Homo sapiens: one gene and its partners. The protein of the gene in region 3 interacts with the protein of the main gene of each other region in a pairwise test. Each region holds a gene or a part of one and is shown on either strand. Other genes may lie near its edges. The genes, in order: RAET1G, ULBP2, KLRK1, RAET1L and RAET1E.

Evidence for each region.
Region 1: the proteins of KLRK1 (region 3) and RAET1G interact in binary tests that used the Homo sapiens proteins (3 or more experiments, as listed by UniProt).
Region 2: the proteins of KLRK1 (region 3) and ULBP2 interact in binary tests that used the Homo sapiens proteins (3 or more experiments, as listed by UniProt).
Region 4: the proteins of KLRK1 (region 3) and RAET1L interact in binary tests that used the Homo sapiens proteins (3 or more experiments, as listed by UniProt).
Region 5: the proteins of KLRK1 (region 3) and RAET1E interact in binary tests that used the Homo sapiens proteins (3 or more experiments, as listed by UniProt).

The regions. Positions count from the first base shown.
Region 1 is NC_000006.12:149,918,901-149,925,874, forward strand, and holds the start of RAET1G (UL-16 binding protein 5 preproprotein), read right to left. Parts: upstream 4,222-6,974; 5' UTR 4,111-4,221; coding exon 4,026-4,110; intron 917-4,025; coding exon 653-916; intron 609-652; exon of another isoform or gene 425-608; coding exon 143-424; intron 1-142.
Region 2 is NC_000006.12:149,946,239-149,951,639, reverse strand, and holds the end of ULBP2 (UL16-binding protein 2 preproprotein), read right to left. Parts: intron 5,269-5,401; coding exon 4,987-5,268; intron 4,321-4,986; coding exon 4,211-4,320; 3' UTR 4,189-4,210; exon of another isoform or gene 4,184-4,188; intron 2,918-4,183; coding exon of another isoform or gene 2,913-2,917; 3' UTR 2,405-2,912; downstream 1-2,404. UniProt on the Homo sapiens protein: Binds and activates the KLRK1/NKG2D receptor, mediating natural killer cell cytotoxicity.
Region 3 is NC_000012.12:10,379,940-10,386,479, reverse strand, and holds part of KLRK1 (NKG2-D type II integral membrane protein), read left to right. Parts: intron 1-6,540.
Region 4 is NC_000006.12:150,021,766-150,029,088, forward strand, and holds the start of RAET1L (UL16-binding protein 6 precursor), read right to left. Parts: upstream 3,768-7,323; 5' UTR 3,707-3,767; coding exon 3,622-3,706; intron 479-3,621; coding exon 215-478; intron 1-214. UniProt on the Homo sapiens protein: Binds and activates the KLRK1/NKG2D receptor, mediating natural killer cell cytotoxicity.
Region 5 is NC_000006.12:149,881,647-149,887,404, reverse strand, and holds the end of RAET1E (retinoic acid early transcript 1E isoform 1 precursor), read left to right. Parts: 3' UTR 1-2,900; coding exon of another isoform or gene 2,901-2,917; 3' UTR 2,918-4,226; downstream 4,227-5,758. UniProt on the Homo sapiens protein: Binds and activates the KLRK1/NKG2D receptor, mediating natural killer cell cytotoxicity.

The DNA of each region.
Region 1 (6,974 bases), on a different chromosome or scaffold from region 3:
CCCCAGGAGGAGCACCCCACGAGGAGGTCATTTTAACATAAACGTGTACACTGGGATGATTGAAGCTGAACTCAAGAATTAGTTTCTTGAGATCCCCATTTCTGATCTCATTGGAGATCCCCATTTCTTTTTCTCCTGTTACCTCCTGCACTTGGCTCCAGGGTGCTGTCCATGCCCATCAAGAAGTCCTCAAGCCATCCTGTGCAGTCTCCCATTGAGATGTAATGGAAGGACATGGTCATATCCTTGTCATTCTCCCACTTTTCTTTCATCTTTCTGGCTCCAGGATGAACCGTTGTCCACATTCTGTTTTCTGAGTCAAAGAGGAGGAAGATCTGTCCATCGAAACTGAGCTGCCAAGATCCACTGCCGTGTCCTTCGGCTTTCTGCTCACAAGACATCCTGGCCTGCAGGGTGAGGGGTTCTGCCCCCATCAAAGAGAGATCAGCTCTGGCCTTGACAGATATTGAGCCCCCATCCTCTTCCACTTGCAATTTCCTGGTCTTACTTGCTCTGCCACATCCTGGCCTTGCCTCTAGACGTCTTGCGGGGTGAGATGACCTTCCTATTTGTATTTTTACATGAAAACTATAAATGCCTCTAACCTACCACTGTATCTGCTCCCTGCTGTCCTGGGCCATCTGAAACTTACCCTTGGGTATGTAATTCTCCAGCTGAATGTCAAGCAGTTGCTCTGTAAGTATGTCCACCACCTCTCTCAGTACTGGGTTCTGTGCTTTCCAGGCCGTTGTGACATTTAGTTTCTTCCCCAGGGGACTGACGGGTGTGACTGTCTTGCTGCCACAGTCATAGTGAAGAAAAGTCTTTTCATCCACCTGGCCTTGAACCGCACACCACCGTGGTCCAGGTCTGAACTTAGGGATGACGGTGATGTCATAGCAAAGAGAGTGAGGGTCTGTGGAGAAAGGCAGGTGAGGGGTGGGTGGGGAGGAAAAGACCCCTAGATACCCCTCCTCCACACTGTGACAATAAGAGGAAGCCTCTGGAGGGCTGGGCTGGCCCAGCAAGGAGTGCCTCCTCCAGAACTGTGGTGTCCACAAGATTAAGGCGAGTGCTCCCCACTTCCATGAGGGCAAAGAGGAGGAGGAGGTCCCTGCCTGCTGAGAAACCACATGTCCCCAGACATGTCCCACTGCCCCTCTGTCCACATCGGTCAACACAGGACCTTGCTAGAGAGGTGCCAGGAGTGCTAGAGGAGGAAGGGCCTGGATGACAGAGGATCTTCAGCAGTAGCCCACGTGGACTGTGGGAGGTGGGACAGGGTGTGGGAGCTGCACCTGAGGATACTGGTGCATGGTGGGACGGAGTGAGGATGGAACCCAGTTGGATAAAGAAGAGTTAATTATCATGGTCACAGGATTTAACACGTTGGCAAAGCCCCTGGTGGTGGTGCTCATCTACTATGAGGATGCCTTCCTGAAACCTTGGACAAAGGGATGGTCCACACAGCAAGAAATAGAAAAATCTGAAAATCTAAGGCAGGCAGTAGACGGAGGGATCACAGGCTCAGAGAAGTGCCCAGGCTGGAGGGGTCTGAGTGTGAAAATCCAGAACAATGTCCATCTGCTGTGCTCATGGGAAGCCTGGAGGACTCCTGTTTACCTGGCATATAAAGAAGGCCCCATGAGAAGGCACCAGAATGGGATGAAGCTCAGGGATGCCTATTGCTGAAGGCCAGGGTTGGGGGTAGGAGATGCTCTTCCTGAAATGGGCTCCCAGTAGTAATGGGATGAAAAATCCCGAAATAACAGATTCCAGGTGGAGGTTGTCAACTGTCAGGAACAAGGAGGGTGCAATGATGGAAATGATTAGAGAAGTCACAATGCCAGCTGGAGACCTCAGTCATACAAAGCTATGCCCATGGCTCATAGAACAAAGGGGTCCAAGATCCAGAAGAGATGGAAACCCAACCTGAATAGTGCTGGATTTAAATAATTACAAGAAACAGAGATAAAACAAATGATGGATGACCAGGAGGCTGAAAGTAGCCAGTCCTTCAAGAACAAGGCTGCTTTGCCTAATTTGCAGAATAAAGCCACTTCTCAGACCGTGAACCCATGACTAGAAGAAGACACCAGTTTCCAGTGAGGAAGGACCCTTTAACCCCGCAACAAGTGCAATGATTCTTTGTGGGCTTCTCCAAACGTATTTATGGCCACTAGAGTTTGCTATGAAGGGCAATTTTGTAAACATGTAAAGGTGTGCAGGGAATATATTCTCCATTGTAACTACTCAGCTCTGCTGTTGAAGCGCAAAGGCAGCCACAGGCAATCCATGAATGAGCGAGGCTGGACCTGCCTTAAGTGCCCAATGACCCAAGACCCCCTAAGATCCTAGAGGTGCATGTGGTTCCAATGTCTAATTGGAGAATCACAACATAGATTCCATGTGAATGTTCAGAGGCAAGGCAACGCCACTCACAGCAAGGAAATCTCAACATTAAAAAGTGTCTCCTGTAGAGTACTGGGCCTTGGCAGAGATGGGGCCTTTAGCCATGGAAGGGCCGTGACCATCCAGCCTCAGAGCTGCCCATTACGGGTGGGCTCCTCACCCTCTAGGTCATTAGGAAGAGAGGTCTGGCAGTGAGAAGACACAGGTGGTTCTCCTGGGATGGGCAGAAGTAGGGCCACAGGGAACCGGGAAGCTGCACAAGCAGTTGGCCCCGATTCCCAGGACACCACGTGGCTGCACCCCCTTACCCTCAGCTTACACCTCAGGTTTCAGGGAAGGTCACTGATGGCCCCCGTGGACCATAGATGCCACTCAGCAGCAAAGGAGGGGAGAGTAGACCCTGAACCATGGGACCCCCACTCCCATCACATCCACACCACCCAGAAGCCACAGGCAAGGTAGGACCACCTTCTACTCTCCAACTGACACCTGAGACACCACTTGGAGATGACACCATAGGGGATGGGGTACTATTTGCTGGTACACTGTAATCCCCTCATCTAGGGTCAGCAACCTAGGACAGGGTCCAAATCTGGTCCCCCCTATTTGAAGGTTGCCATTGCCTGCTGTTGCTCTGCAAAGGGACAGGACTGGACACTGAGACGGAGAACCCAAGGCCTGCAAAGATCACAGGGCATCCTTCCTCCCTTTCTAGAAAGGGTTTGCTGACCCCTGTCTACACACTGACTATTCTCTATGATGCTGGCGCCCCAGTAGGAAGAACAGGCAGGTCTGGGCCCCAAGGGCAGAAGTGGGTGCCTCTACTCACCAGAGTTCCCAGGGTCATCCTGGAGGAAATGGTGCTTCCCATCCCCCCTGCACAGGTTCTGTGGGGAGCTTGGGGTGTGTTTGCTGGGGTGTGTCCTCAGGCAAGAGGCAGAAGGTGTCACGTGGTGTAAGAGGTCGCGAGGGCCCCTTCATGGATGGGGAGACCTCTGGGGTGACCAGCTGGGCTGAGGTGGGGAGTAAGAGGATGTTACCTGGGTGGTGGCAGTGGATGGTGAGGGGAGGGTGGGAAGTGTCTGCTGAGCCGCTGGGTGCAGGTGAGTGTCTACAGGAAAGTGCAGGGAAAAATTCAAGGGCACGCAGCCCTGGGGGTGCTGGAAGGTTTGTGTGGTTGAGAGCGGGTGAGAACAGAGCAGGCTGGTGGCTGGTGGGAGTGTCTGTGATTGTGTCCCTGTGCAACCCCACTTCACCCCTGTCCTGACCCCAGCTCGGATTCTGGGGGCTCTGGTTTCTCCTTCCCGAGGGCGGGTGGGACTGCCGGGCTGCACTAGGGATCCCCGCTCCACGTCGCCCTCTGCAGCCCTCTGGCCCCTCCACTCTCCGGGGGTTCCTTTCCAGCCTCCTCTCTGACCAGCTCCTCCCCTCGGAGGATAAGTAGCCTCTGGGAACGGACCCGGCGGGAAGGAGACGCGGAGGGAAACTGAGCGGGGGCGCAGTCCGGGGTGATCGCACGGGTCCTTCCAGAAGCCTCCCCTCCTCTGAAGCCCACAGTCCACAGCCCCCCACGGTTGGCCTCCGCCCCGCTTAGGCTCCATCCCCGAACTCACCGGCCAGCCCGGTCCTGCACCAGCTGGACAGCAGGAGCAGAAGCGGGAGGCGTAGAAGGAACGCGGGGCTGGCGGCCGCTGCCATTGGGGAGTTGGATCGCAGGGGACAGCAGAAGCGAAGCCCAGCCCGTGGATCACCTGGCGGCTCGCAGGCTGTCTGAATGCAGCCCGTCTGAATGCAGCCCTAAACTCCAGTAAGCCCTAAACTCTAGCACTCCTTCTGCCCCGCCCCTCGGAGGAAACACACCCCCTTTGCTGAGCCGCTAGCCAATCAGGTGTCTCTCAGCCAAGTTGCTCATCCAAGTCTACCCCACTTTCTACTGCAGCGCTCGCGCACTTCCCCCTGCTTCAGCCAGTCAGACTTTGCTGGCTGCCTGCCCGGGACCAGTCCTGCCAAAGGCTTCTTTCCATGACCCCCTCATGTAATCATCACCGCAATTTTTTCATTTTGTATTAATCCAATGTGGATACCGATGCACAGAAAGGTGAAGAAAATGCACAGAAGTGTTCAGCCGCGACAGGGTCTCCCTGTCCTCGCCTGTACCTGCGACACCCGCCTTCCCTCTCCCTGCGTTGCAGAGTGCTCCCAACCCACCGTCCTGTGCGCAGATCCAAGCCCAGTCCCATCCCCGCGGCCTCATCCCAAATCCCGAGTGGACGTGGTTATAGCCTGGGCTAGGTTTGTTTGTTTGGTTGGTTGGTTTTTCTTTCTTTTCTTTTTTTTCTTCGTGACAGAGTCTCGCTCTGCCGCCCAGGCTGGAGTGCAGCGGCGCGATCTGGGTTCGCTGCAACCTCTGCCTCGCGAATTCAAACGATTCTCCTGCTTCAGCCTCCCAAGTAGCTGGGACCACAGGTGCGCGCCACCAAGCCCGGTTAAGTTTTGTATTTCAGTGGGGACGGGGTTTCACCATGTTGCCCAGGCTGGCTTTGGACTCCTGGGCTCAAGTGATCGGCCCGACACGGCCTCTCAAAGTGCTGAGATCACAAGGGTGAGCCACCACGCCTGGCCCGGGGCTAGATTTTATTACAGAAGCACCAGGTCTTCAGAAGCTTCAAAGAAGATATTGTACACTAAACAATTGGTTAAGATAGTAAATTTTATGTTCTACTTTTTTACCAAAATTAAACAGCTTTAAAAATTATCTTAAAAATATGTGTCTTGCTGGGATCTGCCCAATTCGGATTGGCAAAAAGACTCTGCTCATTAAAATCTTTGCATTTTAATGCAAAGCATTGAAAACCTTGTCTCTAAAATCACAACCTGTGAGGCACCTTGCTGATTTAGAAAGCACATCAGAGAGATTGACCCTGAGCTCCCCTTAGAACAGTGCCCCACCAGGTGTGGGGATGGCCCAGGGGACTCAGCAGAGCAGGTTCAAATGAAAGCTCCCCATAGCTACTAACTGCCAGCGCTTGCTTTGGGCCTGTTCCCCCTGGGCAAGGACCAGCCATCCTTCCAAGCCGCGCACAAATACCCCCTCCCATGTGTGTCCCTCATCTTCCCACATGAAGGAACACCCTCCTGCTCCCTGAGGCCTGGATCCACAGTGATGGAGCGTATCCGGATCTCCCTGTGTGACAAATGCTCACACATTTCTTTGCTTCTCTACTAGAAGCATGAGGTCTTTGAGACTATACTAGATCTGTGTACAGCTTTTGAGGGAAAAAAGCCCTAGTGGCCTACTGTTGCTCAATTGGAATGTGATCAATTGTGTTTCCCATGGGAGCAGGAGGCAAGGGAGGGGTCTGTGCGTGCGTGGAGCTCACTTTGCAGTACACCCATCTGTGGCCAACCATTGATGCCTGGATCCATGGCTGCACCCACACCTCTGCTCAGTCCCTGGACGGTCCCTGCGGCCATCCTCAAAAGGAAACCCCAATTGTATCCTTGTCTTAATTATCATGAGGGCATCTGGAAGTGGTGGCAGAAGCCAGAGACAGGTGAGGGTCCCAGTGGTTCCTGGCAGCTGTGAAGGGCTTAGCTTAGGGTGAGGACTGGACAGAGCCCCTGGGTCCCATTCTGCCCCCAGCCACTCAGGCAATATCCTCTTTTCCCCTTCTCTCTCAGCCTCTTCTCACCCTAGGGCTGTACCCAAAGCTCTGAATGAGACTGTCCCTGCCCCGCCCCATCCACTCCTGGTCCAGCTCAGCAGTGACCTTGGAACTCCAGGAGCAGCTCAGTACCCCTGTCTCCGAGTCAGCTCTGCTCCAGGCAGGGCCAGAATCTGGAGTGTGCAGGAGGCCGGATGGCAGGGGCATTGCCCCAGGACTGAGCCGTATTCTGAGGGTTCCCAGAGACCTGACCTCCTACTTGTATACAGTCTTTTCAGTCAGCGTCTGCCTTAAAGGCTGTGACCCAGGCACCTTCCCTGGGAATTAACTCCAGCATTGTCCTCTGGGTCGACACAGTCCTTGGCAGCCTCTCCTTCCTGGGGTTACACCCAGTTCCTCTGCTCTTCTCCAGTGGATGGAATCTCCTTCTCCTTGACACACAGCATCTGGAGCCACCAATCTGCTGCCCCACTCAAATGTGAGGACCGCACATGCCTGAGCTCCTGCTGTCTGCACACCACGCACCGTGGGGGTTCCTTATGACCAGAGACACAGTCTGAAACAGACCTGAATTTGCTAAACCCTCTAGAGCTCGACAGGACCTAAGCCTTGATATGGTTCTGTGTGCTCCTCCCAGGGCGCCCGCTGTCCCCGAGCTCCGGGCCTGAGTGCTGGCTGGCGGAGACCCACAGTGGGTGCCCCGCTCCCGGACGATGCCCCTGGGCTTCCAGATCCAGAGCCTCGGGACGAAACTGTTTCAGGAAGACCCGGAAGGACTCGCCGGTCGCGGCAAGGGACAGGCGGTTCCTGAGACAGGAGGAGCCAGGAAATGCGGGGCCTGGTGGGGTGAGGAGCACGGGGTTCCTCCTTCATCCTCGCGGGGACTTTGCCACCGGC
Region 2 (5,401 bases), on a different chromosome or scaffold from region 3:
ATGAAGACCTTTGTCCAATCCCTTAAATTATGTGGATCCCTGTCTGAGTACTAGCAGCCCTGGGGTAGTCCGATGATTGGATTCCTCCCATGCATTTTAAACCCCATAGTATGGCAACCATTGTGCTAGGTGCTGGGTTTACATGTGGGTGATGGATGTGTCCGGTCCTCAAGTCACTTAGAATCGAGGGACAGAAACAAACACCCACATGGCTGCTGCTGCTGATGTGATGTCCTCGCCGCCATTGGGGCTATCGGGGGGCAGAAGAGGGGGTAACTCATTCTGCCTGGAGAGTTGCATGGAGGCTTCTCAGGAGATGGCATTTCAGACTGTTCTTGTAGGCATAGGAAGAATACAGCGTGGCCAGGTGGCCTCGAGAAGACAGGGCATCCAGCAGATGGACAAGCATGAGGAGGAGGCCTGGGGATACAAATATCACAGAACTTTGGAGAGCTGTGAGACGTCTGCACTAACGAACCCTCAGTTACTGGGGTAGACTCTTTCCACAGGGAGGAGGGAATGTCAGAAGACAGGGAACAAGGGGTGGGCAGGAACCCCCCCTGGAGTCCCTGTCTCCCTCCATAGCAAATCAAGCAGAAAATCAATTCACCATTCATATATGCATGTTATCACACACACACACAGACACACATGCACACACACAGAGACATGCAGGCACAGTCACACACACACACTCACACCACACAGGCACACACACACACAAACAAACACACATACATAAATGCATGCAGAAATACAGACACAGCCATGCACATACACGGGCACACACAAAGACACATAGAAACACACGGGAGAAACTGCCTGTCATCTCGAAAGCTGTCATGTCGAGCCCATCGTGCCCATGCACCTTTTACCTCGGGGGCTGTCTCCCAGCTAATGAAGGAGTTCTGAAGCCATCAAGCAGGCAGTCACTGTGTGATCTGAAACACTCAGAAAGCTCCTCACTCTGACCTATCTTCCTAGTCCCCTTGGGATGAAGCAGCGTCCTGTTGGTTTTCACTGCAGCAGAAGAGAATCCTCCCCCGGGGCAGAAATGCTGGGCCACCAGACCACACCCCTCTGCTCTTTGCCCTCAGTGCCAAAGAGCTCAGGGCACAAACTCGCTGTCAGCAAACCCTCCCGACTTATTGAAATATTTGAAAAATAAGCAGTGCTGTCTGCTGGAAAACACTATAAAGTACCAGTCCAAGGTACTTCATAGTTCCAACATCAGACTATGCACCATTACAGGTTACAGGTATGCACCACCACATCTGGCTAATTTTTGTATTTTTAGTAGAGACGGAGTTTCACTATGTTGGTCAGGCTGGTCTCAAACTCCTGACCTTGTGACCTGCCCACTGCGGCTTCCCAAAGAGCATTTTTTCATGTTTGTTGGCCACTTGCATGTCTTCTTTTGAAAAGCGTCTGTTCACATTCTTTGCTTATTTTTTAATTGCAATTTTGTTCTTGCTTGTTAAGTTCCATGTAGATTCTGGATATTAGAGCTTTGCCAGATGCATAGATTGCAGATATTGCTCCCATTCTATAGGCTGTTAACTGTGTTGCTAATTTCTTTTACTGTGGAGAATCTCTTTAGTTTAATGAGATCACATTTGTCAGTTTTTGTTTTTGGTTGCAAATACTTTTGGTGTCTTCATTATGATATCTTTGCCAGGCCCTATGTCCAAAGTGGCATTTCCTAGGTTATCTTCCAGGATTTTTATAGTTTTAGGACTTACATTTAAATCTTTAATTCATGTCGAGTTATTTTACATATATGGTGAAATGTAGAGGTTCAGTTTCATTCTTCTGCACATGGCTAGCCAGTTATCCCAGCACCATTTGTTGAATTGGGACTCTTTCCCATTGCTTATTTTTGTTGATTTTGTTGAAGGTTAGAAGGTGTGAAGGTTTCTTTCTGAGCTCTCTATTCTGTTCCACTGATCTAAGTGTCTATTTTGGTACCAGTACCATTCTGTTTCGATCACCGTAGCCTTATATTATAGTTTGAAGTCAGGCAATGTGATGCCTCTGGCGTTGTTCTTTTTGCTTATGATTGTTTTGGCTATTTGGGCTCTTTTTTAATTCCAAATACCTTTTAGATTAGATTTTTCTAATTTTGTGAAAAATGACATTGGTGTTGATAGAGAAAGTGTTGCATCTATAAATCGCTTTTGGAAGTATGACCATTTTAGCTATATTGATTCTCCAACCCATGAGCATGAAATATTTTTCTATGTATTTGTGTTGTCTCTGATTTTTCTCAGCCATGTTTTGTAGATTCTCTTTTTCCACACAAAATCTGGTAGAATCACTCATTTATTACTCCATATCATGGAGGAAAAATGAAATAACATTAATTCCCTACTGAGTAATACAACAAAATTCTAAACACCGTAGGTTTTTGGGAAATAGAACTCTTTATTTAAATATCAGTACAGAACAATAAATTACTAAAGGAAACAATCATTAATATAAATTTTTTCTTATTAAATAATTTAAAAATTCTCTTTCAGGACACGGAAAGAATCCCCAGAGGTCTGAAGTCTAACGTGATTATTTTACTGACAATATCATTTGCAAGAAAGAGATCATCATTCAAAGAAGTACTTGATTTTCCAAACAAAAAGAGAAGAAAGAAAATGATATATCTTGTTTAGTCAGCCAGAACTTTAAGTGCAGGAATTCCATCAGGTAGCACCAAGAGAAAATTGCATAATATGTTAGGTATAACTGCTGGTAAAATTGTTGGCAAAAGGAATCAAGGCAGTGAATGAGCTATTGGGTCCATGATGTCATCATGATCTGCTGGAGGCCACTGGACATACACCGTAGGTCGTGGGCAGCTGGCCAGACAGAAGGGCGAGTTTGATCAAGACCGTGCTCACAGGAGCCTTTTGGTATCAGCTTTAACCTTCAGAAAGGACACAAATGTTGGTTTAAGGGGCAGAGAACCCGGATCACTTTTCCAGGGTAATCTTTCCCTAGTCACTCTATGTCTCAGAGCCCCCTGCACTAAGGGACCTATTTTTCCCTTGAGCCTCAACCCTGGCGACTGCAGCTTGGACCTACCTCTTTCCTCCTCTGTCACATCACAGAGTCAGCCCAGGCCCTGCACCTGACCAGGGGATGGAGTGGAGGGGCCTGCAGGTCTGAAGCTGGTAGTGATGGGTCCGCGCCCTCACTCAAGGCCCTCTCTATGATCTGATGTGAAGGCCTAAAACAGGCAAGGGGTGGGGCAGACTTCCAAAAAGAGGGCTCCATATTCCTGTGCCCTTGGCCTTTGGTGGGCCTGCAGGCAAACATCCTTCTTTCCCCTTCTTCTTGAGCCTCTCCTCACACTGGGAGCAGCACCCATTGCTCTGAAGGTGACTGTCCCTGTTCCACCTTATCAATTCCTTGTCCAGCCCAGTGGTGCCTGTGGAACCCCAGCAGCAGCTCAGACCCCCCTTCCTCTGAGTCCACTCTGCTCCAGGCAGGGCCATCAGTGGGCTCAGGATCTGGGGTGTGCAGGAGGATGATGGCAGGGGAGCTGCCTCAGGGCCCAGACTCGAGCTGCACATGTCCATGGGACTGACTTTTTAAAAATCCTTCTCTTGAGCAGCCTCTACTCTTCACCTTCCACCTTAATTCCTGGAACCCAAGCCACTTTCTGTGGGAAGGCAGCCCTGCACTCCCTCCTTTTCAATTAGGTGTACCAAGGTTCTCCCAGCCCCCTCCTCCTGGGATTACACCCAGATCTCTCTTAGCCTCAGAGATGGAATCCCCCTTCCCCTGTCACACCTCATGTAAAGCTACCATGATGCACCTAACCCAATTAAGAGGACTGCCCATGTCTGAATTCCTGCTGCCTGCAGGCCACACACCCTTCCTGAATAGGAACCTGCTCTGAATCAGGCCTGAACTTGCTAAACCTTCTCAAGCTCAACAGACCCTGAGCCTTGGTATGGGCCCCTCCCTTTCCCTCTGGACTCTGAAGGTGAGAATCCATCAGAACTCAGGGCTGAGCTGCCCAGGTCATTGCCAACATTGCCAACAGGCAACACAAGGTCTCATTCACCTGTCTCATGTTAGGATGAGAAGGTCCCAGCCACGGGGAGGGGCGGGACTCCGGGAATTCTCTTTCCCCATCCTGCCTCCTCACCCACCTGCTCCTTGCTCCACTTCCAATTCTGCCCACAGTACCTGTCACTCTAAAGGACTCTCCTCAGATGCCAGGGAGGATGAAGCAGGGGAGGATGATGAGGAGGCAGCAAAGGATGAGGGTGGTGGCTGTGGCCCTGAGTTGGGTTGTGCCTGAGGACATGGCGAGTGGTGCTGAAATGGAAACACAAAAGTGACAACCCTTGTCCAGGCCCCAAATCTGAGGAGACACCTCCTCAGTTCCTGCCACCCTAGGTCATCCTGGAAGGCAAAAGTTTTGTCCTCTCCCCCCTGGTGTGGGGCAGCCAGTATGACAGGTCCTGGCTTAGGAAGGGAGACGGGGTGAGTCTTGTCCTCAGGGAGCTCACACAGCTGCTGAGGGAAGCAAGGTGACAACACACCCCACCCTCCTGCTGTGGGGGAAGAGGAGGTGATGCCCCAGAGTTGGGGAGGGGAGGATCTCTGGGCTGGCGTTGGAAGTGGTTTTGATGGATTTCCAGAACCAGACCAGGGAAAGGAAAGGAAAAGTGATTCTCAAAAGAGGAAACACTAAGGAAAAAGGTCTGAAAACAGTGACACCTGCAGTTTCAAGGCTGGTGAGAAATCCACAGGGCGGGGAGCAGGAGCAAGTGCAGTGAGGAATAGGAGTCAGGAGGGAGAAGGAAGAGGACGGTGGGAGAGCACAGGCATGCCAGTAACCCCAGGAGGAGCGCCCCACGAGGAGGTCATTTTAACGTGAATGTGTATACTGGGATGATTGAAGCTGAACTCAAGAACTAACTTCTTGAGGTCACCATTTCTGATCACATTTGAGATCCCCGTTTCTTTTTCTCCTGTTACCTCCTGCACTTGGCTCCAGGGTGCTGTCCATGCCCATCAAGAAGTCCTCAAGCCATCCTATACAGTCTCCCATTGAGAAGTAATGGAAGGACATGGCCACAACCTTGTCATTCTCCCACTTTTCTTTCATCTTTCTGGCTCCAGGATGAACCGTTGTCCACATTCTCTTCTCTGAGTCAAAGAGGAGGAAGATCTGCCCATCGAAACTGAACTGCCAAGATCCACTGCTGTGTCCTTCAGCTTTCTGCTCACAAGACATCCTTGCCTGCAGGGTGAGGGGTTCTGCCCCCATCAGAGAGAGATCAGCTCTGATCTTGACAAATTTTGCACCCCCATCCTGTTCCCCTTACAATTTGCTGGCCTTACTCTCTCTGCTACATCTTGGCCTTGCCTCTAGACTCTTGAGGGGTATGAT
Region 3 (6,540 bases):
AAAGCAGAATATTATTGGTAATAGACCTTTATATAGTTTGTATGAAAAGGAAAACAACAGATGACCCTCACTTATCAATTTTTATTAAAAACTAAGAAACAAATTATTAACAAATAGCATCTCTTTACAAGAATTAATTTAAGGAATGCAAAGTGCTATATGTAAAAATCCCTTTTTGGACTAAAATATTCAATTGTTACCAAAATTTAAAACACACATGCCCTTTCCCTCAACAATTATCATTGTGGGAATTTATCCCAGAGAGAGACTCAAAAATATGCACAGATGGGTATGAAATGTATCATTATTTCTCATAGCAAGACCTAAGAAACAATTTAAATATCCACTGGAAAAAAAAATTGACAGTCCGTCAAAAATTAGATCTGTCCAGAGTTGTCAGTGAAATACAATGCAGCTATTTATAAATTTGGTATCCTTATACGCCATGAGGACTAATCACCAGGATATTGTCTTAGGTAAAAAAAAAAAAAAAATTCATAGGATATTTTGTGTATTATAGTTTCTTTAAAATGTATTTTTAATATGTAGTTAAGGGGAACGGTAATTTTTGTTTATTTTTAGTTGGCATGTAATAATTATACATATTTATGGGATACAGTGATATTTCCATTCAACTATACAATGTCTAATGACCAAATCAAGGTAATTAGCACACCCATCACCTCAACATTTATCACTTCTTTGTGTTGGGAACATTCAAAACCTTCTCTTCTAGCTATCTGAAAATATACAATAAATTACTCTTAACAGTACTCTCCCTACAGTGCTATAGAACACTAGAAAAATCCCGCATGTAGCTGTAATTTTGTATTCATTAACCAACCTCTCCCAATCTTCTCCTCCCCCCTATTCTTTCTAGCCTTAAATAACCACAATTCTACTCTCTACTTCTGTGAGCTAAAAGTTTGTATCTCCTACATATGAGTGAGAACATGTGGTATTTATCTTTCCATGCCTGATTTACTCTACGTAACATTATGTACTTCTGACTCATCCATGTTGGTGCAAATAATAGGATTTCATTCTTTTCATTCTTTTTTTTATGACTGAATGGTATTCCTCTGTGTGTGTGTGTGTGTGTGTGTGTGTGTCTGTGTGTGCTTAGCTATTTATCTGTTAATGGACACAGGTTAATTCCATATCTTGGCTATTGTGAATAATGCTGCAATAAACATGGGGGTGCAGACGTTACTTCAATATACTGATTTCCTTTCCATTGGAGAAAGACCCAGATTGCTGAGTCATATGGTAGTTATATTTTTAGTTTTTTAAGGGACCTCCATACTGTTTCCATAATGGCTATACTAATTTACATTCCCACCAAAATTGTATAAACATTAGCCTTTCCCTGCATCCTCACTGTCATTTGTTATTTTTTGTCTTTTTAAATAATAGCTATTCTAACTAGGGTGAGATGATATTCATTGTGGTTTTGATTTTCATCTTCTTGATGATGAATGATGTTGAATTTCAAAAAATATATCTGTGGCTATTTGTATATCTTCTCAGAAATATCTATTCAGATCCTTTGCTCATTTTCAAATCAGTTTTTGTTGTTGCTGTTGAGTTGTTTGAATTCCTTGTATATTCTGGATATTGGTCTCTTGTTAGAGGAATAGTTTGCGAGTATTTTCTCTTATTCTACAAGTTGTCTCTTCACTCTGTCAATTGTTTCCTATGCAGTAGAGAAGTGTGTTAGTTTGATACAATCTCATTTGTTTCTTTTTGCTTTTGTTGCCTGTACTTTTGAATTCTTACCCATAAAATCTTTGCCTAGACTAATGTCCTGTGGTGTTTCTCTTATCTCTTCTAGTAGTGTTATAGATTCAGTTCTTATATTTAAGTCATTAATCCATTTTGAGTTGATTTTTGTATATGGTGTGAGATGAGGGTCTAATTTCATTCCTCTATGTGGATATCCAGTTTTTTCAGCTTCATTTATTGAAGAGGCTCTCCTTTCCCAGTGTATGTTATTGGTGACTTTCTGGAAAAATCAGTTGGCTATAATACATGGATTTATTCCTGGGTTGTCTATTCTGTTTTATTGGTCTAGGTGTCTATTTTTATATCAATGCCATACTGTTTTGGTTGTTGTAGTTTTGTCGTATATATTGAAGTCAGGTAACGTGATGCCACCAGTTTTCTTCATTTTTGTTCAAGATTGCTTTGGCTATTCAGTCTTTTGTGGTACCATATAAATTTTAAGATATTTTTCTATTTCTGTAGAGAATGTTACTGGTATCGTGTTAGGAATTGCACTGAATCTGTAGATTGCTTTGAGTCATATGATTACTTTAACAATATTCTTTCTGTCTATGAACATGAGATGTCTTTCCATTTTTTTGCATCCTCTTTGGTTTCATTCATCAGTATTTTACAGTTTTCATTGTAGAGGTCTTTCACTTGTGTGATTAAATTTATTCCAGGGTATTTTATTATTTGTAGGTATTACAAATGGAATTGACTTCTTGATTTCTTTTTCATCCAGTTTGTTATTGGTGTATAGAAACACTACTGATTTTTGTATGCAGATTTTTGATCCTGAAACTTTACTGAATTTGTTTATTTGTTCAAAGGCATGTTGTTTAATTTTCATGTATCTGTGCAGTTTCCAAAGTTCCTCGTTATCAATTTCTAGTTTTATTCCATTGTTGTCAGAAAATTTACTTGATATAATATTGACTTTTGGAAATGTTTTGAGACTTATCACCTAGCATATGGTCTGTCCTGATGAATGTTCCATGTGCTGATAAGAAGAATGTGTATTTTGCAGCAGTTGGATGAAATGTTCTGTACATTTAGTTAGGTTCATTAGGTCTATATTATAGTTTTACTCTGATGTTTCTTTTATGATTTTCTGCCTGAATGATCTGTCCATTGCTTAAAATGTGTTGTTGAACTCCCCTGCCCTTATTGTATTCATCTATTTCTCCCTTCAGATCTATTAATATTTACTTAATATATCTGAGTGCTGTAATATTGGGTGCATATGTATACTTATAAATACTATATTATATTGCTGAAGTGACCCATTTGTCATTATATAATGGTCTTCTTTGACTCTTTTTTACTCTTTTTGACTTAAAGTCTATTTTATCTAAGTATAGCTGTGCCTGCTCTTTACTGGTTTTCATTTTCATGGAATATCTGTTTTCATCCCTATACAGTCAGTCTATGTGTGTTTTTATGAGCAAAGTGGGTTTCTTGTAGGCAATATATTGTTTGGTTTTTTTTGTTTTTAATCCATTCAGTCACTCTATGTCTTTTACTTGGAGAATTTAGCCCCCTTGCATTTAATATTATTATTGGTATGTAAGAACTTACTATTGCCATTTTGTTCCTTGTTTTCTAGTGGTTTTGTAAGTCTTCCTTTCTTCCTGTCTTCCTTTGTGATTAAGTTGCTTTCTCTGGCAGTGTATTTTAATTCCTTGATTTTCATTTTAGTGTATCTATTATAGGTTTTTGTTTTGTGGTTACTGTGAGACTTACAAGGACATCTTATAGCTTATAGCAATTATTTTATACTGATGACAGCTTAACTTTGATCACAAAGCAAAGAAAAACAAAACAACAAAAGAAAAAACTAAACAACTCTACACTTTAACTCCATCTCCTCTCACATGTTGACTTATGTTTGTATGGATTTACATCATTTTATATTGACTATCTCTTAATAAATTGTAATTACTATTATTTTGATAGAGTTGTCTTTTGGTCTTCATAAGATCTGAGTGGTTGAGGCACCACAATTACAGTATTAGAATATTCTGAATTTGTCTGTGTACTTACTTTTATCAGTGAGTTTTATACATTCAAATGTTTTCTTATTGCACATTTGTGTTCTTTTTTTTCTGACTGAAAAAACTCTCTTTAGCATATCATGTAAGACAGGTCTGGTGGTAATAAATTCACTCAACTTCTGTTTGCCTGAGAAATACTTTTTCTCTCCATCATGTCGATAGTTTTGCTGGGTACGGTATCTCAGTTGGCATTTTGTTTTCCTTGGGTCTTTGAATATGTCACCCCACTTCCTCTTGGCCTATAAAGTTTCTGCTAAGAAGTCTGCTAACAGATGTGTTGAAGCTTCTTTATATTTATTTTGCTTTTTAAATTTTGCTTCCTTTAAAATTCTCACTTTGTCTGGAGCTTTGAACATTTAAATTTTATATGTCTTGTGGTGATCTCATTTGGGTTGAATCTGCTTGCTAATCTTTGACCTTCCGGTATTTGGTTATTCATATCTTTCTCTGGGTTTGGAAAGTTTTCTGTTTGTCCACAGCCTCCCAGACCAGTGCTGTGCCAGGGCTTGCCCAAGGGCCATGGTTGCTATGGCCTGCAACCACTGAAATTTTCTTGGGACCAAGGCCACTTTAGTCAGCTGGTGATAAAGTGGGCTGAGACTAAGGTTCTTCCTGCCTAAGCAGTGGATTCACCTCTGGCCCACGGTGGGTCAAAATGCTCCCCATATGAGCACTGGTTTGGAATCAAGGGCCATGGGGTCTCTGTCTTTTGCTGTGTTCCAATGTGGTGGGGCCAGGTCTAAGTTCCGACACAAAGTCCCACACTCTTATTTCCATTTCCCAAGCAGGCAGTTTTTCTCTAAGCACTGCACTATCTGGGTTTGGAAGAGAGGCGTTTAGGCAAGGCAAGACCATCTTTTCTTACCTCTTTAATGTGTTTTTTCTCGTTATCATGCTAAAATCAGGGTACTGTGATAGCGCACCTAATTTCTTGAATTCTTTTGAAGGTATTTTCTTGCATGGATAATTATTTAATTTGATGTTTCTGTGAGAAGATAATCACTAAAGGGTTCTTCACAGCCAGCTTGCTCTTCTGCCATTTTCTTAATTGTTTTCTGATATACCTGTTGTTTTGCCTACCCATTGATTTTTTTCTCCTCTATCATTATTTATCTTTGTGGTTTGGTGGTTCTCTGTAGCCATAATGTTTGATTCCTTTCTCTTTCTTATTTGTGTATCTGCTCTACCAACCAGTTTTATACTTTTGTGTATTTTTATGATGATAGATATTGTCCTTTTGCTTCCAGATATAGGACTCCCTTAAGCATCTCTTGTGGGGCTAGTCTAGTGGTGATGAATTCCCTCAGTTTTTGCTTGTCTGGAAGAGTATTTCTCCTTTATTTCTAAAGGATAGTTTCGCTTAATACAGTATTCTTGTTTGGGAGGAGGTATTTTTTTTTTTTGGCATTTTGAATATATCATCCCATGCTTTTCTGGCCTGCTGCTGGAGAAAGTGGGATTGCTGGCAGTGGTGGCACTGGGCTCCAAGTGAGTGGCTCTGGGAATCTGGGGGGGCGCATGCATGACTCTCTCTATGCTGAGGACAGACTCTGTGCTTGGCTGCATCTCCTGTTCCCTGGGCATAGGGCTCTGTATAGGCTTGATGCAAGGGTCATGACTACACCTTTGGTTGGGATCACCTGGTGTGGCTATGCTACAGTCCTCTAGGTGGATTTGGTGGAATGTCAGCAGGGCCCCAGGGATGTGAAGATGCATAAGCTATTGGGCCCCAAACATGCGAAGATAAAGGAACTATTAGGCCCCAGGGCAGAGCGTACTTTGGTGGTGGCTACACTCTCAAAATGGTGCAGTGCTGCTGCAGCCTGTGTTCCAGAGAAGAGGAGGGACCCCAGTGTGAATTCCCACTCTGGAATAATGCAGTTATGTGGATGTCAGTGAACTCCCTATACTGGACTCAGGGATCGTGAGGAATGTGGAGCTCTCCTATACCTAGGATAGCAGGTATTTATAATGGGAATGTGGACTGCTGGGGAGCTCCTGTTTACCTTTTCTCCTCAGTGGAGAGTCCCTCTTGGCTCCAAGCTGATCCATGTCACCTGCTTCTCTTCCCTTTCTATGCTATCGCCCTGAGCATCTGTGCCTCAGAGAGACTTGGTCACTTTCTTGCTGAATTCCAGCCTTCTCCCTTCAACACTCTATTCAATGTGTGGTTATCTACTTGTTGTTTTGGTCCTTTGTGGAAGTGAGTGCTGGGTGCCTGTAGTTAGCCATCTTGATGATGCTTCCTCCTTCTTTATGTTTATTATTGTATCTGCATAAAAATAATAAATCACGGCCGGGTGCGGTGGCTCACGCCTGTAATCCCAGCACTTTGGGAGGCCGAGGCGGGCGGATCACGAGGTCAGGAGATCGAGACCGTCCTGGCTAACACGGTGAAACCCTATCTCTACTAAAAATACAGAACATTAGCTGGGAGTGGTGGCGGGCACCTGTAGTCCCAGCTACTCGGGAGGGTGAGGCAGGAGAATGGCGTGAACCCAGGAGGTGGAGCTTGCAGTGAGCCGAGATCGCGCCACTGCACTCCAGCCTGGGCGACAGAGCGAGACTCCGTCTCAAAAAAAAAAAAAAAAAAAAAAAACAATAACAACAAAAAATCATAAGCATAATTTACTCTAGGGATGACTGGGGAACTTGTAGAGAAGTATAGAAGGAAATATTACATTGTTGTACTCTAGTTTTTGATCATTTGCGAGGTATT
Region 4 (7,323 bases), on a different chromosome or scaffold from region 3:
TTGCATTTCGGTAGAGACAGTGTTTCACTATGTTGGTCAGGCGGTCTCGAATTCCTGACCTTGTGATCGGCCCACCTCTACCTCACAAAGTGCTGGGACTACAGGCGTGAGCCACCGTGCCCAGGACCCTTTTGTATTTTTACATGAAAACTATAAATGCCTCTAACCTACCACTGTATCTGCTCCCTGCTGTCCTGGGCCATCTGAAACTTACCCTTGGGTGTGTAATTCTCCAGCTGAATGTCAAGCAGTTGCTCTGTAAGTATGTCCACCACCTCTCTCAGTACTGGGTTCTGTGCTTTCCAGGCCATTGTGACATTTAGTTTCTTCCCCAGGGGACTGACGGGTGTGACTGTCTTGTTGCCACAGTCATAGTGAAGAAAAGTCTTTTCATCCACCTGGCCTTGAACCGCACACCACCGTGGTCCAGGTCTGAACTTAGGGATGACGGTGATGTCATAGCAAAGAGAGTGAGGGTCTGTGGAGAAAGGCAGGTGAGGGGTGGGTGGGGAGGAAAAGACCCCTAGTTAGCCCCCCTCCACGCTGTGTCAATAAGAGGATGCCTCTGGCAGGCTGGGCTGGCCCAGGAAGGAGTGCCCCCTCCAGAACTGTGGTGTCTACAAGTTTAAGGCGAGTGCTCGCCCCTTGCATGAGGACAAGGAGGAGGAGGAGGAGGAAGTCTCTGTCTGCTGAGAAACCACATGTCCCCAGACATGTCCCACTGCCCCTCTGCCCACATCAGTCAACACATGACCTTGCTAGAAAGGTGCCAGGCCTCTCTAGCAAGAGAGGAGGAAGGGCCTGGATGGCAGAGGATCTTCAGCAGTAGCCCACGTGGACTGCGGGAGGTGGGAGAGGGTGTGGGTCCACCCCTGTGGATGCTGGTGCTGGTTGAACAGAGTGAGGATGGAACCCCGTTGGATAAAGAAGAGTTAATTATCATGGTCACAGGATGTAACATGTTGGCAAAGCCCCTGGTGATGGCATGCATCTGCTATGAGGAGGCCTTCCTGAAACCTTGGACAAAGAGATGGTCCACACAGCAAGAAATGGAAAATCTGAAAGTCTAAGGCAGGTAGTGGAGGGAGAGATCACAGGCTCAGAGAAGTGCCCATGCCAGAGGGGTCTAAGTGTGAAAATCCAGAACAATGTCCATCCACTGTGCTTATGGGAAACCTGGAGGACTCCTGTTTACCCAGCATATAAAGAAGGCCCCATGAGAAGGCACCAGAATGGAATGAAGCTTAGGGATGCCTATTGCTGAAGGCCAGGGTTGGGGGTAGGAGATGCTGTTCCTGAAATCTGCTCCCAGAGTAATGGGATGAACAATTCTGAAATTCCAAATTCCAGGTGGAGGCTGTCAACTGTCAGGAGCAAGGAGGGTGCAATGATGGAAATGATTAGAGAAGTCACAATGCCAGCTGGGGACCTCAGTTATACAAAGTTATGCCCATGGCTCATAGAACAAAGGGGTCCAAAGTCCAAAAGAGATGGAAACCCACCCCGGATACTGCTGGATTTAAATAATTACAAGAAACAGAGATAAACCAAATCAGGAGGCTGAAAGTAGCCAGTCCATCAAGAACGAGGCTGCTTTGCCTAATTTGCAGAATGAAGCCACTTCTCAGACCCTGAACCCATGACTATAAGAAGACACCAGTTTCTAGTGAGGAAGGACCCTTTAACCCTGCAGCCAGGACAGTGAGTCCTTGTGGCCTTCTCCAGAGATATTTATGGCCAATAGAGTTTGCTGTGAAGGGCAATTTTGTAAACATGTAAAGGTGTTCAGGGAATATATTCTCCATTGTAACTACTCAACTCTGCTGTTGAAGCTCAAAAGCAGCCATAGACAATCCATGAATGATGAGCGAGGCTGGACCTACCTTAAGTGCCCAATGACCCAAGACCCCCTAAGATCCTAGAGGTACATGTGGTCACAATGTCTAATTGGAGAATCACAACAGAGATTCCATGTGAATATTCAGAGACAAGGCAATGCCACTCACAGCAAGGAAATCGCAACATTAAGCAGTGGCTCCTGTAGAGTACTGCACCTTGGCAGAGATGGGGCCTTTTGCCATGCATATAAAGAAGGCCCCATGACAAGGCACCAGAATGGAATGAAGCTTAGGGATGCCTATTCCTGAAGGCCTCAGAGCTGCCCATTACTGGTGGGCTCCTCGCCCTCTAGGTCATTAGGAAGATAGGCCCAGCAGTGAGAAGATGCAGGTGGTTCTTCTGGGATGGGCAGGAGCAGGGCCACCGGGAACCAAGAAGTTGCACAAGCAGTTGGACCTGATCCCCAGGACACCACGTGGCTGCACCCACTCACCCTCAGCTCACACCTGAGGCTTCAGGGAGGGTACCTGATGGTCCCCATGGATGCCACTCAGCACAAAGGAGGGGAGAATAAGCCCCCAACTATGGGACCCCCACTCCCATCACATCCACACCACCCAGAAGCCACAGGCAAGGTAGGGCCACCTTCTACTTTCCAACTGACATCAGAGACATCACTTGGAGATGACACCCTAGGGGATGGGGCACTGGGACACTGTAATCCCCTGATCTGGGATCAGCAACCTAGGACAGGGTCCAAATCTGGTCCCCCCTCTTTGAAGGTTGCCATTGCCTGCTGTTGCTCTACAAAGGGACAGGACTGGACACAGAGACGGAGAACCCATGGCCTGCAAAGATCACAGGGCATCCTTCCTCCCTTTCTAGAAAGGGTTTGCTGACCCCTGTCTACACAGTGACTATTCTCTATGACGCTGACACCCCCGTAGGAAGAACAGGCGGTCTGGGCCCCAAGGGCAGAAGTGGGTGCCTCTACTCACCAGAGTTCCCAGGGTCATCCTGGAGGAAATGGTGCTTCCCATCCCCCCTGCACAGGTTCTGAGGGGAGCTTGGGGTGTGTTTGTTGGGGTGTGTCCTCAGGCAAGAGGCAGAAGGTGCGACGTGGTGTAGGAGGTGGTGAGGTACCCTTCATGGATGGGGAGACCTCAGGGGTGACCAGCTGGGCTGAGGTGGGCAGTAAGAGGATGTGACCTGGGTGGTGGCAGTGGATGGTGAGGGGAGGGGTGGCGGGTATCTGCTGAGCCCCTGGGTGCAGGTGAGTGTCTACAGGAAAAGTGCGGGGAAAACAAAGGCAGGGAGTCCTGGGGGTGCTGGAGGGTTTGTGTGGTAGAGAGCAGGTGAGAGCAGAGCAGGCTTGTGGCTGGTGGGGGCGTCTGTGATTGTATCCCTGTGGTACCCCCCTTCACCCAGTCCTGACCCCAGCTCTGTTCCCGGGGGGGCTCTGGTTTCTCCTTCCGAAAGGCGGGTGGGACTGCCGGGCTGCACTAGGAATCCGGGCCCCACCTAGCCCTCGCAGCCCTCTGGCCCCTCCACCCTCCTGCCAGCCTCGTTTTCACCCTGCTCTTTTTCGCCCCTACTGGGGCAAGAACAGCCTTGGGGAGTGGACCCGGCGGGAAGGAGCCCAGGAGGGGAACTGAGCTGGGGGCGCAGTTCGGGGAGATCTCCCTTGTCCTTCCAGAAGCCTTCCCTCCTCTGAAACCCGCTGCAGTCCACAGTCCCTCAGGTTTGGCCCCCGCCCCGCTTAGGCTCCATCCACCAGCTCACCGTCTCGCCTAGCCCGGGACCAGCCGAACAGCAGGAACAGAAGCGGGAGGCACAGAAGCAAAGCTGGGATGGCGGCTGCTGCCATTGGGGACCAGGAGGGCTGGGGACAAGAGATTTAATCAAGGTGGATCCTGGAAGATGAAATCACCTCTGTGCTGAAAGGCTGGCTTATATACTGTTAGTTACTGGGGAATGTACCGGGGAATGAGTCACCTCGATTCTGAAAAGCCAGATTTTAATGCTACTGGGCGTAGTCACTGGGCGCGTTCCACCTCTTCGTTTCATTGTCTGGACGAAATCCAGTTTCCATGCTAGTGTCCCTTCCCTTCTTCACCCGCTCCGGCAGCTTGGTGGCCTCGTGCCCGGGCCCCACTCCTGCCAGGACACGATTCCTTCCACGACAGACTCATTTAATCATTATAGCATTTTTTATTAATGGTGAAGAAACGTGCAGAGGAATATTCAGCGGCCTCGGCGTCTCCTTGTCCCCGCCTGGGTCCGCGGCACTCTCCCTCCTTCCGCTTGCGCCGCGGGGTCCCTGGCTCACCCCGCCCTGGGCACAGCCATGGGCCTGTTCGCGTCCCCTCCACTACTTCCCCAGTCCCCGGTGGGCGTGGTTACAGTCCGGGCTGGGTTTTATTTTTTATTTCTTTATCTATTTATGTATTTGGAGATGGGGTTTCTCTCTTATTGCACAGGCTGGAGTGCAACGGCCCGATGTCGGCTCGCCGCAGCCTTGTCTCCTGGGTTCAAGCGATTCTCTTGCCTCAGCTTCTGGAGTAGCTGGGATTACGGGTGCCCACCACCAAGCCCGGCGAATTGTTTGTAGTTTTGGTAGAGATGGGGTTTCACCTTGTTGGCCAGGCTGGTCTCAAACTCCTTTCCTCAGGTGATCCACCCACCTCGGCCTCCCAAAGTGCTGGGATTACAGGCATGAGTCAGCGTGCCCGGCCTGGGCTAGGTTTTATTACAGAAACAGCAGGTAGGGTTTCAGAGGTTCAAAACAACATATTGTATAGTAAACAATTGGTGAAGATGGTAAATTCTATGTTCTATGTTTTTACCAAAATTAAGCAGCTTTAAAAATTATCTTAACAATTTATGTCTTGCTTCTGCTTCACCCAGTGCAGACTGGCCAAAAGGCTGCTCATTAAAATCGAGGACAGCATTGAGGACCTCATCCCTAGAATCTCAACCTGTGACACGCTTGCTGATTTAGAAAGCTCCTCAGAGAGATTACCTCTGAGCTCCCAGTTCAGCAGCCGCCCTGGCCCAGGTCCACCGATGGCACAGGGGGCTCAGCAGAGCAGGTTCAACTGAAAGTTCCTAGTGGTTCCCAACTGTCAGCGCATTCTGCTGGCCTCTTCCCCCTGGGCAAAGAGCCAGCCATCCTTCAAAGCCGGGCACAAATACCCCCTCCCATGTGTGTCCTGCATGTTCCCACAATACAGAACACCCTCCTGCTCCCTGAGACCTGGGTTCACAGTGGGTGCATCCAGATCTCCCTGTGTGACAATTGCTCACACATTTCTTTGCCTCTCTGCTAGAAGCATGAGGTCTTTGAGAATATACTACATCCCTTCCTAAAAAGACCTAGTGAACAACTTGCTCAATCATGTAATCAATTGTGTTTCCACGAAGAGCAGGAGCCGAGGGAGGAGTCTACACACGTGTGGGGTTCACTTTCCAGCACACCAATCCGTGGCCAACCACACCTGAATCCATGGCTGCACCCACACCTCTGCTCAGCCCCTAGATGGTCACTGGACTCATTATCAAAGGGGCAACCCCAAGTGCCCCCTTGTCTTAGTCACCATGAAGGCATCTAGACCTGTGGGCAGAAGGCAGAGGGAGGTGGGGGGCCCAGCGATCCCTGGCTGTTGGGATAAGGAATGGGCAGAGCCCCTGAGTCCCACACTGCCCCCAGCCACTCAGCCTTCTCCCTATTAAATGAGTAAAATAGACACAGACCTTCTTCTCCACACAGTTGTCATGTGGGGAGGATGCACACCTGGTGACCAGCAATCCCCAGAGCCCTGAGGCTGCGGGAAAGGGGAGGAGGCCTAGACCAAGCCCAGGGACTGTCTCTGCTTCTGCACAGGGGGATGGGATAGCAGCCCCTCTGTGACTGTGCAGGGACACAGGAGCCTAGAAGTTTCTGGCCTGATGCACTAGAGCCTCTGTCCAGGAGGGGCCATGTGGAGGGTGGTCTGGAGGACAACAGACACACGGGGGTGGGCAGTTCTCAGATCTGAGAGGGGCAGAGCTTGGCAGGTCCAGGGATCTGTGTGTGAGAAGTGCCTCCCATGCATAGGGCTGGGAACAGGAGCGTTTGAAAGGAGGGTACTGGGAAGGCCCTGGCAGCCCCCACCCCTGAGGCTGGGTGACCTGGGCCAGTGACCGGGGGACTGGGGGAACAGGAGGAAGGCAGAAGCCTGGCAGAAGAGTCCCAGGCAGCACAGCCAGGTGACAGTAGGAGGGGACTCTGTGCACACCTGGGCCCTCCTGCCTCACACCTGCTGCAGACTCTCGGCCACCAGATTCAGGCCAGCCCAGGATGGGGATAGACGTGGCTGAAAGGTGATTATAATGGCCGTGATCTAGAGAGCATGCATTCAGACATGGAAGTCAGCTGGCATTGTGGCTGAATATTCTTGTGCAAGTTTCTTCACCTTTCTGGGCATGGATGTCCACATGTGGAAATTAATACTATGAACACAGAGGAAATGAGCAGTTTATGCCAGGAACCCTGTCCTTGCACATGCTAAGGACTCAGGGAAGGTTTCCTATTTCACATGTGAGCCCTGCCTTCCATAACATCAGCAAAGGCCAGACCCAACCAGATGACAGCTGGAGCCCTGCGATCATGCCATGGCCTCTTCATGGCCCTGGGGGCTCTTTGAATGGGTGTAAATGAAGGCAAAGACTGGACCCAGAGAGGACGGTGGTTTTACTCTCCATCACCAGGTAAGCCTAACATGATTTAAGGGTGGCTGGAGGCTGAGCAAATGACTGAATGAATGAGACAGTTGTGGGAGTGAATGGGGCTCAGGGGAAAACCCCAGGTGCAGAAGTGGAGCTGGAGTGGAGGTTGTAACCCCCAGAGGCCTGAAGGTGAGGATATCGTGGTTGGAGACCTCACTGCTGGCACAATTTGGAAATGTGAATGCCTGCCTGGGCGGCCACAAAGATTTTCCAAGGAAGAATAACTTTGGTTTGCAGCTGGTCTGGGCCCCAGCAGGATAAAATCTAGAAAACATTATTGAAGAAGGACAGCAAGCTGCTCTCTTTAGCCCCTTTGATTGAACCCAGAGGGTACAATTGTGAGTGGTTGGGGCAGGAAAACCTTGCCCTTTAAACTTTGTTTAAAGGAACGAGCCTGAAATCAGGAATGGAAATGGGAAAAGGAAGGGTCAGGAGGGAAGGGAAGGAGAAAAGAAGGGGTGAGGGGCAGATACAAAAAAAGGGTCAGAGCGATTCCTCTGGATCTGGAGAAAGAGCAGGTGGGTGGGGCGTGGACTGGCTCCAGCTGGTGGTTGGGAACCTGCCGAACCTAGCCCTGTAAAAGCCTGGGGGACGTGGTCGAGACTCAGCATTGCCACTGTGCTTCCTCCTGGGCTGTCCTCCTCCTGGCTCCAGGTTCCCAGCAGCAGTGGCCACCATCACTGTGTTGGTCCTCGAAGGAGTAATGGCAGGAGGAGA
Region 5 (5,758 bases), on a different chromosome or scaffold from region 3:
GGGAGTGAATATGCTGAGATAGGAAGGGGTCCCACCCACAGAGCTGCAGGCAAAGGGGTCCCACCTTAATCCCTGGTGGAAGGTGACTGAGAAGGACTTAACTGCCCCAACCAAGCAGGCTGGGACTTCAGTGCCATTGACAATAGTGAAGGGGATTGGTGAGTAGGAAGGGAGGCAAAAGAACAGTTTTAGAAGCTGGGTCTGAACAGTAGGGATTTAAAGGAGGTGGGACCTCCATAGACACCTGGGAGTTCCTGGCCTCTAGCCTCATCCTGGTAACCGAGTCGGCTGCTGAAGGGCTTCCTGTCTGGGCAGGAGCAGGCAGGGATCAAGCGCCGGTGGAGGTCAGTGCCCACAGCTGAGCTGAACAGAAGTGGGAGGCAGAGTGGGCCTGGGGAAAGGTGTATTACAATTCAAGGGGAAAAAAATATATCTGCCACCCTTTGGGGAGGGCCTCCCCACTGTGTCGCATGGATTTCTCTGTCACGGGGAAGAGCAGCACCCAGGGAAAAAGAGCTTTGTGTGCCCATGACACATTCCTATTTTGTTGTCTCTGGCATTTCTGGGCATTGTTTCTGCTGAAGTGACAGAAGAGAGAAAAAGCTGATCAAAGCTAAATGACAGAGCAAAGGGGTTGACAGGGAGTGTCTTTTCAAATACACAGGGACATTCACCAAGAAGGGCCATTTTTGGATCATAAAATAAATCTCATCTGGGCGTGATAGCTCACTCCTGTAATCCCAGCACTTTGGGAGGCCAAGTTGGGTGGATCATTTGAGGTCAGGAGTTCGAGACCAGCCTGGCCAACATGGCGAAACCCTGTCTCTACTAAAAATACAAAAATTAGCCGGGTGTGGTGGCATGGGCCTGTAATCCCAGCTACTCGGGAGGCTGAGACAGGAGAATCGCTTGAACTCAGGAGGCGGAGTTTGCAGTGAGCTGATATTGCGCCATTGCACTCCAGCCTGGGTGACAGAGTGAGATTCCATCTCAATAAATAAATAAATAAATAAATCTCAACATATGTAAAGGGTTAAAATCATGCGAAGCATCTTGTCCAAGCACAATGGAAATAAACTAGAAATCAACAGCAGGAAGCTATCTGGAAAAATCCTCAAATGTTTGGATATCAAATAATATGCTTCCAAATAACTATATATCAAATTAAAAAGTACAAGGAAAACTAGAAAGTATTTTGAAATGAATGAAAATGATAATACAAAATATCAAAATCTATCAGACACAGATAAGAAAATGTCTAGAGGCATCCACACTGAACTTTTTGATCTCTGAATCACCGTGCATCATTGCTGCCAAATTTTTTGCTCATGCTCATCTCTGCCTGGAATTTTCTTTCTTACCTGACCGAATTCCAGACAGCTATCCAAGTCCAGTTTAACTGTCACCTCCTCTAAGAAGTCACCATTCTTCCTGGATAGAATTAACTACCCCCACTCGTAGCTCAGAAACTCTGACCACAGAAAAATTATCACATTGTTTTATGATTGGGTGTATGTCAGTAAATTGATGCGCTTACTTGAGGACATTACTTTTGTAACCTGAGAATCTATCATGGCTGCTATATAGTAGACGCTCAGGACATGTGAGGACTTGAGTGGCAGCGGAGGTAAGGGTCATCTCCTGGGTATGGAGCTTGGACAAGAACCTGCACTCTTCTGTTCCATTTCACCTCAACCATCCATGTCCCCAACCACATCTCCACCATCCTACCTGTACCAAGTGCTAATCCTTTGAATCATGTCAGTGACTATCTTCAGCTCAATCCCAATCACAGGTCAGGAGGGAGGGCATCAGGTATACTGTGAGCAAAACAGAGTATGAGATGGGGCCAACTGGCCTCTGGATTAGGGGCAGGGCTTGTCCTGTATGAGGACAGGGAGAAATGAGGTTGCTAAGTCTCCCCAAGACCCCTGCCAAATCTCACCATAGACATAAGATGAGGTGAATTTCATTTATCGCCTGGGCATTCACGACCTGAGAGGCTTAGCTCTGGGTCAAGTTGAGCCCTCTCTGTCCCTGGCCAACAGGAGAAAGGCAAAGGCTGAATGAGTCTCGGGGACTGTCTCTGCTTTGCAAGTGGGCCCTGAGGTGAACAGGGACCTTTCCAAATTAATGCATCCACAGCGGTTTGGCAAAGTCGGGCTTTAAACCAGGGTCACTCTCCAGGGGTTGCCTATGTGATGGGTGGTCTGATGGACAGAAACACAGAGGGTGGGCAAGACACAATTTTGGGTGGGGCAGCAGCTTGATGATCTGACCATCTGACCATGGGAAAGTATATCACATGCCAAAGGTTGAGGGGTCTCTAGGTTTAATTCCTAGGAGGACATAATGAAGAAGGCTGCCTGGGCTCCAACAAAGCAGGCTGGAGGCAGGGCCACACAGACCGTGGGAGAGGGGATTGTGAGCAGAAGGGAAGGCTGAAAGTGAACCCTAGACACTCTGTGAGGACAGCAAGGACTAGAAGGTGGGATTCCTTTGACACCTGGGTTTCTGGTTCACCCCTGACACAGGAATCCTGGCAAATGGCGTCGTGCCAAGCCCCACCCTCAGTGCTCTGGACCTGCCGCAGGGATACCCTTGCCCACAGCTGGAAGACTCTTGCCCCCGCTGTGGGCCTTCCCACTGTGTTCCCACTGATACTTTGCCTTCCTTGGCTCTGAACCCCTAAAATCTCTGCTGGGGTCTGGGTCTAACTAATGATGAAGTAACGGAAAGTGAACAATCATAAACTAGATGACAGAGAGGCAGAATGTGAACAATAGCGGCTGATCTCTCCCTGAGAGAGAGGTGGGATCTGAGTCCTGAGAGATCACGGAGGGGTCAATCCTGAGCTGATCTGACCCAGGGTTCTGCACTCTTTTGTCTCCTTCCTAAAGGCAGAAGATCCACCTAGAGGTGATACCACGGCGGCGCAGAGTTGTTCACCTGTGGTCCTCGATCGCTGACAGCCTTGGCTCCCACTGCTGTGTGTTCCCTGAGTCAAGTGGAGGCGGAGCCTGCAATGAGCGGAGATCGCGCCTCTGCATTCCAGTCTTGGCAACAGAGCAAGACTCCGTCTCAAAAAAAAAAAATTTTTTTTCAGTACATATTTTTTAAAAGATAGGGCTGGGCACAGCAGCTCACATCTATAATCCCAACACTTTGGGAGGCCTAGGCAGGAGGATCACTTGAGCCCAGGAATCTGAAGCTGCAGTGAGCCTTTGCTCGTGAGATTGTGGACCTATGATCCTACCACCAGCCCACCTGGTTCTAACACCCCCTCCTCTATGTGTGAGAGGGAGAGAAGAAAAGTGAGGGAGAAAAGAGAGATAAGCAAAGAACAGAGAGGAAAAATGGAAAATAAGAGGAAATTGGGGGAATTAAACAGAGGGGAGGGCATGGATCCCCGGGAGTTAGAAGAGTAGCAGCTTGTGGATTACTACGCAGTGGAGGAAGAAGAGTTGTTGGAAATTATTTGAGAGGTAGTATAATCATTTGTGAGGCAGTTTTCTGCATTCACCATTTCTCACAGACTAAGTTACTCATAAGCAAACGTGCAATTCACATTACACTGAAATTCTTCCCTAATACATCATTTGCATTGGAATAAAGTACGGTTTTCAAACAACCTGATATAGCAGAACTGACTGTATAAATTATGTGAGCACAGTGCAAGTAATTCTTTGTTTGTTTGTTTGTTTTTTTGAGACAGAGTCTCACTCTATCTCCCAGGCTGGAGTGTAGTGGTGCGATCCCGGCTCACTGCAACCTCGATCTCCCAGGCTCAAGCGATTCCCCTGCCTCAGCCTCCTGAGTAGCTGGGATTACAGGCATGAGCCACCACGCCCGGCTAATTTTTGTATTTTTAGTAGAGACGGGGTTTCACCCTGTTGGCCAGGCTGGTCTCGAACTACGGACCTCAGGTGATCTGCCCCCCTCAGCCTCTCAAAGTGCTGGGATTATAGCATGAGCCACTGAGCCCAGACACAAGTAGTTCTTTCTGATAAACACTTTAACACTGAATGCAAAAAAAAAAAAAAAATTGTGTGTGTACTTTTTTTAATTTTACTTTAAAATAGACACACCAAACATGTTTCTAAATAAATGTAATATGGAAATCTTTCTTTTTCTCCTCCATTCTCAGTGATGATATGGTTGTAAATTCTTATCATCTGATAATTTTTATCAGATCTTTACAAATTATAAACTTATTTGCAACTCTGTTTTCAGACTATCCCTTCTATTATGATCATGAAACTGAATTAAATAGGTAGCTATTTTTTTGACTTTTACTCCTTTATTTTTATTTTCATAGTTTTACAAGAATATAATATATGTAATCTGTCTTCCATTTTAAACCTAAAGTCTTCCTAATCTCTTCTTCATAGTTTCAACAAACATAAAGGTAACAATTCAAAGCACCTGTCGCTTCGACAAGAAGATATTTTACATATTTAAAAAAACAGATAACAATTTTAAAATACTTGCTATAAGAATAAAATTGTATTTAATAAGTAGAACTAAAATTTTGACTGATGTTGCAATAGATTTGGTGGGGGCTTTTTTTGTGGGTCTTTTTTTTTTTGAGTCAGGGTCTTGCTCTGTTGTCCAGGCTGGAGTACAGAGGTGTGAACGCAGCCCACTACAGCCTTGAACTCCTAAGCTGAAACGATCCTCCTGCTTCAGCCTCCCATACTGCTGGGACCACAGGCATGAGCCATCCCACCCAGCTAATTTTCAGATTTTTTTTATAGATATGGGCGTTTCACTATGTTGCCTAGGCTGGTCTCAAACACCTGGGCTCAGGTGATCCCCTGCCTCAGCCTCCCAAATCGCTAGGATTACAGGCATAAGCCTCTGTGCCTGGCCTCTTTATTATCATTATTATTTTATATTTTCAAACTAGGAAAAAAGCTATGCAGTAACAGAAAATTCTAGTTATATTTAAAACAGGATTGTAAGAGAAACATGTTAATGTAATTTTGGTTTTCTCTTTTTTATAATTTTAACATTTTAGATTCAGGGAGTACATGTGCAGTTTTGTTACATGGATATATTGTGTGACACTGAGGTTTGAGATATGAATGATCTCATGTAGTGAGCAGCAGCACAGTACTCAATGGCAGTTTTTAGTCCTCGCCCCTCCATCTCTCCCCTCCTCATAGTCCCCAGTGTCTACTCTTCCCATCTTTATGTCCATGTGTACCCAAAGCTTAGCTCCCACTTAAGAATGAGAACATGCAGTATTTGGTTTTCTGTTCCTATATTAATTCACTTAGGATAATGGCCTCCAGTTGCATCCATGTTGATCCAAAGGACACAATTTTGTTCTTTTTTATGGCTGCATGGTATTCCATGGTGTATATGTGCCACATTTCCCTTATCCAATCCACAATTGATGGGCACCTAGGTTGATTCTACGTCTGCTGTTGTGAATAGTGCTGCAATGAACATGTGAGCATGTGTGTCTTTTCGCTAGAATGATTTCTTTTCCTTTGGGTATATGCCCAGTAGTGAAATTGCTGGTCAAATGGCAGTTCTGTTTTAAGTTCTTTGAGAAACCTCTGAACTGCTTTCTGCAGTGGCTAAACTATTTCACATTTTCACCAGCAGTGTAAAGTGTTCCCTTTTCTCTATAGCCTCATCACCCATATGCTATTTTTTTACTTTTTCCCCCCAAAGTCTCAAGTTTTATTTAAATAGCCTCCAGTGAGAACAGAGTGGGCCAGTGACTACCCCTTCCTTGTAAAGTCTA